2 separate regions of the Homo sapiens genome follow, and region 2 is linked to region 1. The links come from fine-mapping of genetic effects on gene expression. A gene starts in region 1. The other region holds a variant in brackets. All regions are shown on one strand. Distances are between the middles of the regions. Region 1 holds the start of RNASE6 (ribonuclease A family member 6). Region 2 has its middle 14 kb from the start of EGILA.

Region 1 (5,380 bases):
TCAAAATTGCCTACATTTTCCCCATGTTCCTCTCCCCTATGAAGAGAATACATGAATTTCAACTATTTAGTCTTTCTTTGAGTCTCATAATTTGTATGGTTCCCATGATTATGCACAGTAATAAATTTGTATGCCTTTTTCTCCTGTTAATCTGTCTATTGTCAGTTCATTTCAGAAGTTTTGAACCTTCAGAGGGAGAGGAAAAATTGTCTTTGCCCCATACCATTCAGATGTTTTGCCCATTTTTCAACTAGGTTGTTGGTTTTCTTATGGTTGAGGTTTTTTGAGTTCTTTGTATATTTTGGATAATGTTCTTTTATCAGATATATCTTTTGCAAATATCTTCTCTCAGTCTCTGGCTTATCTTTTTATTCTCTTAATAGTATCTGTTGCAGAGCAGAAGTTTTCAATTTTAATGAAGTTCCACTTATCAATATTTTTCTTTCATGGATTGTGCTTTTGGTATTGTATCTAAAAAATCATTGCCAAACTCAAGGCTGCCTAGATTTTCTTCTATGTTATTTTCTAGAATTTTTGTAGTTTTGTATTTTGCATTAGGTCTATGGTCCATTTTGAATTAACATTTGTGCCAGGCGCGGTGGCTCACGCCTGTAATCCCAGCACTTTGGGAGGCCGAGGTGGGCGGATCACCTGAGGTCAGGAGTTCGAGGCCAGCCTCACCAACATGGTGAAACCCTGTCTCTACTAAAAATACAAAATTAGCTGGGTGTAGTGGTGCATGCCTGTAATCCCAACTACTCCGGAGGCTGAGGCAGGAGAATCACTTGAACCTGAGCGGCAGAGGTTGTGGTGAGCTAAGATCATGCCATTGCACTCCAGCCTGGGCAACAAAAGCGAAACTCCATCTCAAAAAAAAATTGTGAAAGATATAAAGTACAGGTCTATGAAAATGTATGAAGTCTAACCTATGAAAAGATTTATTTTTTGCATGTGTACATTCAGTTCTACTACCATTTGTTGAAAAGACTAACTTTTCTCAATTGAAAATTGATCCTTTGTCACAGATTAGTTCACTGTATTTGTGTGGGTCTACCTCTGGGCTTTCTACTTGGTTCCATTGACCTATTTGTCTATTTTTCACCAATAACACACTGTCTTAATTGCTGTAGCTTTATAGTAAGTTTTGAAGTTGGGTCACGTCAGTTTTCTGACTTTGTTCTTCTTTTTCTGCATTGTGTTGACTATTCTGAATCTTTTTTTTTTTTGAGACAGAGTCTCGCTCTGTCACCCAGGCTGGAGTGCAGTGGTGCGATCTCGGCTCACTGCAAGCTCCACCTCCCGGGTTCAAGCGATTCTCGTGCCTCAGCCTCCCAAGTAGCTGGTACTATAGGCGCCCGCCACCAGGCCTGGCTAATTTTTTGTATTTTTAGTAGAAACGGGGTTTCACTGTGTTAGCCAGGATGGTCTTGATCTCTTGACCTCGTGATCAGCCTGCCTCGGCCTCCCAAAGTGCTGGGATTACAGGCGTGAGCCACCGTGTCCAACCTGAATCTTTTACTTTTATATAAACTTCAGAGTCAGTTTGTCACTATCCACAAAATAATGTGCTGGGATATTGATTGAGATTGTGCTGAATCTATAGATCAAGTTGAGAGGAAATGACATCTTAACATATTGAGTATTCCTACTCATGTACATGGAATATCTGTGCTTCCTCAATTTCTTTCATTAGAGTTTTAAATTTTTCCTCATACCAATTTTTACATAATGTATTAGATTTACACCTAAGTATTTCACTTTCTTTGGTGCAATATAAATGGTATTGTGTTTTAAATATCAAATTGCAATTGTTCATTGCTGGTATATAAGAAAGCAACTGACTTTTGTATATTAACCTTGTATCCTGCAACCTTGCTATAAACAGACATTATGTTTATTCTGCAGACATTTGGAGCCATAAAAGCATGGGGCAAGAGTGTTGTACTATTATATCTTGTTCAAAAAAAGACTAATCTGGAAGTAATATGTAGAATGGATTGGAAGGAGAAAAAAACAAGGCAAGGAGTCCATGTGGGAGGCTTTTATGTGAGCCCTCCATAAGACAATGAGTTTCTGAATAAGGGTGTTGCAGTACCAGTGAAAAGGTAAGAACAGATTCAAGAGGCAAATATCCTAAATTCGGCCTTCTTCTTCAGGCTTACAGGTCTTTTCATACACAATTCTGTCTTTGGGAGGCGCTTAACACTCTCTTCACCTAACTTCTAATTATTCCTCAAAATTCAGTTCAGGTGTTGTGCCCTCCAACAATCCTTCCCCTCTACTATCTTCCCGTAGCCTCCTGCAGTGTCCTCCATCACACTGTAAGTGCTATTTATATTAATATAATCTACTTGTCTATATACTTACCTGCCTGTCTCTAATCTCTTTCATTAAATCATGAGCTCCTGGCAGATCACGAGGTCAGGAGATAGAGACCATCCTGGCTAACACAGTGAAACCCCGTCTCTACTAAAAATACAAAAAAATTAGCTGGGCGTGATGGCAGGCACCTGTAGTCCCAGCTACTCGGGAGGCTGAGGCAGGAGAATGGCATGAACCCAGGAGGTGGAGCTTGCAGTGAGCAAAGATCGCACCACTGCACTCCAGCCTGGGCGACAGAGCAAGACTCCGTCTCAAAAAAAAAAAAAAAAAAAACTCATGAGCTCCTGAATTTGTGTAGCCTAGTACCTGGCCCAATAAGTATATGCATAAATGAATAATGTATTCACTTCTGTTGTAGGAACTTACAACATTACCAAGTATGTGGCAGGCATTATATCATATTTATGTGACATATTTTCTCTTAAGAAACAGGAATCATAAAGCTTCAAAAAAAAACACTGAAGCCTCAGATGAGGCAGGAAGCACTCATTCCATATCAGGAAGTGATCAGTTCCTCAAAACTGTGAGTTTTCAGTCATGTTGTTTCTTTAAGTTGGTTTAGCCTTCCTGTATACATGTGATAATGATACTGTTTTAAAGAACAGGTGTGAAAGTCTAAGAGTTTAATCCAGACTCTGCACAAGAAGTTAATCTGCCAAACCCTAGGATTCTCCTTCTGAAAGCTCAGAATATTTCTTCCCCTTCCCTATACACACAGGGCTCGAAGGGTTAGAGAAGAAAGGCAGACAACAGCTTCTGAGCTTTGGACTAATCACAGCCTCTGTTCTCAGCAGGAGCCCCAACACTGAGACCAGGTAAGAAAGAAAGCCTCAGGGCTGGAGCGAGTAGAGCAGTAAAGACGGCTGGGAGGTAGTGGTCAGATAGAGGGTAAATATTTCAGGAGGGAAGAGGGAAGAAACTTTCTGATATGACAGCCATCAAATGCATGAGTACTTGTGAAAGAAAATGGGATATGCCAATCAAAGGAGAGGTCATATTTCTGTTTCCTGGGCTTCAGGTTCTTCATAGAATTGTGAGACTATGTGAGAAAGAAGATTTTAAAGGGAGCTGTAAAATCTTAAAAGGCAAAATAAAAATCTAAATAGTTATGATTAAAAATTTTGCTCTTATTGCTTCTCCTACTATAACTATCTTCTCTCTTTCTACACAGAAAAGATGGTGCTATGCTTTCCTCTTCTTTTACTGCTGCTGGTTCTATGGGGACCAGTGTGTCCACTTCATGCTTGGCCTAAGCGTCTCACCAAGGCTCACTGGTTTGAAATTCAGCATATACAGCCAAGTCCTCTCCAATGCAACAGGGCAATGAGTGGCATCAACAATTATACCCAGCACTGTAAGCATCAAAATACCTTTCTGCATGACTCTTTCCAGAATGTGGCTGCTGTCTGTGATTTGCTCAGCATTGTCTGCAAAAATCGTCGGCACAACTGCCACCAGAGCTCAAAGCCTGTCAACATGACTGACTGCAGACTCACTTCAGGAAAGTATCCCCAGTGCCGCTATAGTGCTGCTGCCCAGTACAAATTCTTCATTGTTGCCTGTGACCCCCCTCAGAAGAGCGATCCCCCCTACAAGTTGGTTCCTGTACACTTAGATAGTATTCTCTAAGGCATCCACTGCATTTCCTTTCATTTGACATAGCTTCTGTTACAATTGCATCCATGTTTTCTTTTCTTTTGTTGATTTTCTTGTTCCCGTAGAAGAAAGAAGAAAGGTGTTTGGAGAATTCGAGTGCCTAGGATGCCAGACCAGAGTTGAGACAAAAAGAAATAAGATTATTTTCTGCTTTGTAGTTCTGTACTTTTCGAGAGAAGGGAATAGGGAAGACAGCAAAGAAAGATTCAGATTTCTAACCCTGCAACTTTTGCCAAGCTTTATTGCCCTGTGTTCACAGCAATAAAACCACTTCCTGCTGCATTCTAATGAGTGTGTGTTTGAGATCCGCTTTCAAAGCATTGTTGACCGGTACTCAGAGGAACACTGTTTTGACTTTAAGTCCCTAGAAAACTTTTGAGGCCTCCCTGGGGCCCCACTTCCTTGCCCACAAGAAAGGACAGCGTTTGGGACTTTGGAGCATTTCTTCAAACTCTGCTCATGACTTTATATATTCCCCTGGAAACCATTGTCTATGCTTAATTGGAGGTAGTACTGATACCTCAAAGACAGTTGATGATAACTCACACATAGATTCTGTCACTGGCAACTGAAGGATCCTATGTCTTTTCTATTTGTTTCCGTTTTTAATCAGATAATGTTTTAAATATAAGGTGATAGTAGTAGTAATAGGGATAATAATCCATTGTAGTAACCTTAGGGTCAATCCTCCATTATTTATTGAAATGGATAAATAGAAAGCATAGATCAAGAAAAAAGCACTAGGCTTGTCGTGGTGGCTCACGCCTGTAATCCCAGCACTTTAGGAGGCTGAGGCAGGTGGATCGTCTGAGGTCAGGAGTTCAAGACCAGCCTGGCCAACATGGTGAAACGCTATCTCTACTAAAGATACAAAAAAAGTAGCTGGGCGTGGTGGCAGTGCCTGTAATCCCAGCTACTCGGGAGGCTGAGGCAGGAGAATCGCTTGAACCCAGGAGGTAGAAGTTGCAGTGAGCAAATATTGTGTCACTGCACTCCAGCCTGGGCAACAGAGTGAGACTCCCATCTCAAAAACAAAAAAAGAAAAAGAGAAAAGCACCAGGAGACCCAATGCAGTGGCTCACACCAGTAATCCCAGCACTTTGGGAGGCCGAGGCAGGCAGACGACTTGAGGCCAAGAGTTTGAGACCAGCCTGGCCAATGTGGTGAAACCCCATCTCTACTAAAAATACAAAAAATTAGCCAGACATGATGGCAGGAGCCTGTAATCCCAGCTAATCAGGAGCCTGAGGCAAGAGAATCGCTTGAACCTGGGAGGCAGAGGCTGTAGTGAGCCGAGATTGCACCACTGCACTCCAGCCTGGGTGACAGAGCGAAACTCCCG
Region 2 (5,380 bases), 60 kb before region 1:
CTCGGAAGGCTGAGGCGGGAGAATTGCTCGAACCCGGGAGGTGGAGGTTGCAGTGAGTGAAGATCGCACCACTGCACTCCAGCCTGGGCAACAGAGCAAGACTCTGTCTCAAAAAAAAAAAAAATTTCTTAGCTTTAGTTTGGTAGGGTTTTCCCCTGGGACTATGGCCCACGACTCTGGAGGGGGCGGCACTTTCTTGACTTGGGTGTGATAGGTCCATCCTTTTTCTGCTGTCTGGACTGCGCTTTCAGTAGTTAGGAGCACTAGATAAGGTCCTTCCCAGGCCAGTTCCAGCTTTTCCTCCTTCTAGTTTTTGATGAGGACTTGATCCCCGGGCTGATTTCGATGTACTGGGAACTCCAGGGATGGTGCCTGTGCTAAAAGACCTTTAGTTCTAAGGGAAGAGAAAGTGGAAGATAAACCAAGTATATAATGTCTGAGAAACTGATCTTTTGTTTCGAAGGTGGAAATGTCAGCAGTGGAGTGTAAATAGGGCAACCCATATAGCATCTCATATGGGGATAGGCCAACATCTTTTTGAGGGGTGGTTCAGATTCCTAGCAAGGCAATGGGAAGGCATTTAGTCCATGGCAACTGAGTCTTTAAGACTAATTTGGTTAAGTGACTCTTCACGGTTTGATTTATTCTTTCTACTCTTCCCGATGAAGGTGGGTGCCAAGGAGTATGGTATTCCCACGTTATGTCTAGTGCTTGGGCTAATTTCTTAATGATATGTGCAGTGAAATGAGTTCCATTATTTGAATTAATATTTTCAATTTATTTGCCCAGATCCATTGGAGGAACCACTATCTATGACCGCTATAGTCTTATGAAATGTATTTCTGAAGTAATAAGACTTGAAAGCCAAAATTACTCCTTGATCCATGGGCTGCAGAACTGCAGAACGGATGTTGTGTGAGCAGGCATGGAAACTATGGAAATTAATATCTTTGAACATCTCCATCAGAGGCCTTAGGTAACCAAGTGCATTGCCAATCAGCAGTAGTATTTTGAAAGGAATCTTTTTTTTCTGAGCAGGTCTCAATAATGAGCTTAAAATATTCAGTAAACCATGATGTAAACAGATGTGCTGTCAATCAGGCTTTGTTGTTCCATTTATAGAGACAGGCAAAGTAGATTCAGCATAATTCCTAAGGGCCCTAGGATTTTCAAATGATACATGAGCACTGGCTTCAACCTGAAGTCTCCAGTGGCAGGTGCCCCCTGACAAGAGAGTTGGCCTGCCCTCTGAAGCTCTGAAACCAGGCACTGACTCCTCCTCTCTAGCTATGGGAGTCCCAGATGGCACCTTCTTCCACTATAAAGCTGTCTCATCTACACTGAAAATCTGTTGTTTAGTGTGGCCACCTTCATCAATGATCTTATCTAGAGCTTCTGGAGAACTTGCTGCAGCTTCTCCTCAGGACTTGCTGCTTCATCCTGCACTTTTATGTTATGGAGATGGCTTCTTTCCTTAAACCTCACGAACCAACCTGTGTTGGCTTACAACTTTTCTTCTGTAGCTTCCTCACCTCTCTCAGCTTTCAGAGAATTGAAGGGCCTGATCTGGTTTTGACTTTGGCATAAGAGAATGTTGTGGCTGGTTTGGTCTATCCGAACCACTGAAATTTTCCCCGTGTCAACAACAATAAGGCTGTTCTGCTTTCTTATCACTTGTGTGTTCACTAGAGCAGAACTTTTAATCTCCTTCAAGAACTTTTCCTTTGCATTCGCAACTTGACTAACTGGCTCAACAGCATTTGGCCTATCCTAGCTTTTGACACGCCTTCCTCACTAAGCTTAATCATTTCTAGATTTTTAAAGTAAGAGACATGTGACTCTTCCTTTCACTTGAACACATAGAGGTCATTGTAGGGTTACTAAATGGCTCAGGGAATAGGGAGTCCTAAAGACAGGAAGGTGGGGAAGCCGCCAATCAGTGGAGCAGTCAGAACACACACATTTATCAATCAAGTTTGCCATCTTCAGTTTGTGGCACCCCAAAATAATTACAATAGTAACATCAAAGATCACTAACCACAAATTACTGTCAGATATAGTCATAGAAGAAGTTTGAAATATTCTAATAATTACCAAAATGTGACACATGGAAGCACTAAATGCTGTTGAAAAAATGGCGCTGACAGATTTGCTCAATGCAGGGTTGCCATAAGCCTTCAACTTGTAAAAAACACAGTATCTACGAAGTGCTATAAAGGGAAACACAACAAAACGAGGTGTGCCTGCACAACCAATGCCCAACTGTGTGTACCGCCTGAAGGAAAATGTTTCAAAGGTATCACAACTTTTTAGTCTGGAAATCTGAACAATATTTTGGTTTTTCACAGTGAGCATGTGGAACTTATATAACCAAAAAAGTAAAGTTGTATTTGAATGCATGTGGGCTACAAGTAAAAAGGAAGATGAAATAACAGTTTTATAAAGCGGAAAGATTTATGGGTCTAACTCTGTGTCATATTTAGATTTTCTAATAAATGGGTATAGGAACAGAAGGAGAGACAGAGTTAGATAAAAGGTGTAGACGGTAGGCTTTGCTGCTTCGAGAACTTGGTGCTGATTAGAGGTGTGATTGCATTCATGGTAATAGGGATGAGTGTCACGAACTGCTGTGTGTTCTGCTGGTGAGCTTCACTGCAATACTGCACTAACCAGTGAGTGTAAGCCTGCAGCACAGCC[A/G]GGGACTGAGCACGTACATCAATGAGGTCAGGTTTCAATACTGATGGCACATCAGTTTCAATGTTGCACAATTTTTTTTTTTCTTTTTTGAGACGGAGTCTTGCTCTCTTGCCCAGGCTGGAGTGCAGTGGCACGTTCTCAGCTCACTGCAACCTCTCCCTCCCTGGTTGAAGTGATTCTCCTGCCTCAGCCTCCCGAATAGCTGGGACTACAGGCACGTGCCACCGTGCCCACCTAATTTTTTGTGTTTTTAGTAGAGACAGGGTTTCACCATGTTATCCAGGATGGTCTCAGTCTCCTGACCTTGTGATCCACACACCTCGGCCTCCCAAAGTGCTGGGATTACAGGCGTGAGCCACCGCACCTGGCTCAATGTTGTACAACTTTATCTGAGATCCATACAGAGTGACTTTGACCAAACTCTCCACAACTGTGAGGGCATCATTGAACCATGCAGCAAACACATCCCCAATAAAGTACCCGGCCAGGTGGCCCATGGCCTGCAGCAGGGAGCTCAAGTCTCTCAGGGAGCAGTGCAGCCACCAGCAGTCGTTCTCTGCCATGATGTTCAACCTGTGTCCTGACCCTGATGTAACTATAACTTGCTGTAATCCCAAATAAACTTCTAAATTGCCCTGAAGAACTGGGAACAGTGTGGACAACGTGTGCGTGGGCAGGAGCTCCATCACTTTGACCGCCACCTCCAAGCTCTGCCGTAAGTACCGCTGTCACTCCATCTGCTGATCGTCATCCAGAGTCTCGTCATCCAACTCCTCCAGCTGGCCTGGTTGTATCTGAACTGGATTTGATTCAACACCTCTGTGGGGAGGAGCACCAGGGCATCTTCGTACCTGTTGAGAACTGCTTCCTTGTCTTCAAGATGACTTTTAATTTTATTTGTCAGATAGTCCAAAAAGAGTGTCCAGTATCCAAACAAGAGAATTAACCTTCATGAGTAGGCTGATGAAATGTGTACTTGAACAAAAGTGTCAAAAACTCCACCACAGAGAACTGGGAGTAAGACTCGATTCTTCTTAGGTGAACACTCACAAAGAGCCAAAGAAAGTCAGTAAACTTCTCAATAAAGCTCTCATCGAGCTCTTCTAGCCTGCTCTTCACTGTGTGGGCATTGTTATCCTTGGTGATCTTCTGCAGGAGGTAGAAAGTCTGCTGGAACATAAGCAGTAAATACTCCTCGAACTCCATCGGCACACAGCTCTTGGAAATGAGTTCACTGATGCAGGGCATGGCCAGGACCCCCGGCCGGCTCCGCTCCTGAACCGAGACACAGTTCTGGCTGCTGCCGTTAACTGACGCCATCTTTCTGGCACGGATGTCACAGCCAAATCACGCAAAGTGGAAGGTGGTGGTAAGGAGGGATGGGGTGATGCCGGCAGACAGAGGAATACAACTGAAGAGATGGGCTAGGCACTCCAAGGCAAGGGAACAGATATACTCACTCACCACATCAAGGATGGGAATTGGCTGATTCAACAGTTTGGCTGAACTAGGACTCTGCCACAGGTTACTCAGTAAGTCACCACTTTCTCCTGTCGGGGAGGGTGGTGGAGTGGCAGCAGTAACACTGTGTTTGTCCCAGACAGTCCCCAAGATAGCGGTCAGCAGCCCAAGCACTGTCTGCACCTGGTCCAGTGGCAGCTTCTGCAACTCCTCCTTCCAAGCCACACTGAGGTCCTCGTGGGGACAAGCCAGCTCCTCTGAAGTTGTCTTCAACATGATCGGCCCAAGGGGGGTTGTCACAGGGGATTGGTTCAACTGCAAAATGTTAGTAAAAAAGTCATGGTAGAACATGGGCCGATCCTGACGTCCAATATCAACAATAACTTTGCAGAACTTGCTCTGGATAAAGTAAGGTAAGGTTTTATGGTGAGCCAAAAGGAGTTTGGGCAGTCAGCTGTGGATTTCCATCTCATCCTGAGATGGGACCCCAAGCCACATTTTATTGATCAGATTCTCAAAAACTGTTAAACTGTACATCATTACATAGCCATTCCTAGTGCTGGAGAGAAAGTACAGGAAGAATCTCCAGGCTCCTATTTGCTGGGCAATGTTATTAAGAAGCTCCTCTATCTCACGTTTTCTTTCATTGGTCGTACCATCGTGAAAAAGTTCTGTCATCAGCCTTTCCAATGCTCTGAGAGGGGCTTCTTCAGATGCCATGCTGGCCGGGGAGGGGGCGGCTCAGATGAGCTGGTTCTTGGGCTTTGGACACATCCTACTCGCCCAGTTCAGGTCATGGTCCCGGCAGACTAGGGAAGTCCCCTACCCATGCAAAGATAACCCCTTCCCCCCCGGGCCCCGAGGGGATCCTCTAAAAAGGGCAGGGCTGCCTGGGTCGCCTCATCGGGGGCCCCTGAGACAAGTCATCTAGACCCACCGGCCCCTCCACAAGGAAACTGAAAAAGTAGGAAATGGGGCTCGATTGCTGGCGAGGAGGGCAGCAGCTCGGGACCCCCGCCCGGCCCGAACCCCGCGCGGGGGAGGCTGCGGGCGCAGGCGGGGGCTCCCCGGCCTCCGCGGGCAGAGGTGGCGGCGGGCTCGGCCCGGAGGCTGAAGGGGCGGAGGCTGACGGGGCCTTGGCTGCGCTGCCGGGGCAGCCGGCTCAGGGGAGAGGCCCAGGGGCCCGCGCTGTCCTCGCCGCCTCAGCCCACACGGCTGCCGC

What was found. PIP is the estimated chance that this variant, and not a neighbour inherited with it, causes the effect.
Region 2: its variant is fine-mapped to the expression of RNASE6 in whole blood (TOPMed, PIP above 0.99).

Annotation. Positions count from the first base shown.
Region 1 is chr14:20,778,142-20,783,521 of GRCh38, forward strand. RNASE6 (ribonuclease A family member 6) reads left to right here and starts at 3,127. Exons shown (of 2, transcript NM_005615.5): 1 at 3,127-3,197; 2 at 3,554-4,326. The coding sequence starts at 3,559. The coding sequence ends at 4,011. All of the region lies in intron 1 of LOC107984671 (a long non-coding RNA gene), which reads right to left. RefSeq lists an enhancer at 4,202-4,271.
Region 2 is chr14:20,718,251-20,723,630 of GRCh38, forward strand. It overlaps the pseudogene RANBP20P. Among named protein-coding and RNA genes, the nearest start is that of EGILA, 14 kb to the left of the region's middle. The variant A/G (reference allele first, on the strand shown) is at 2,698.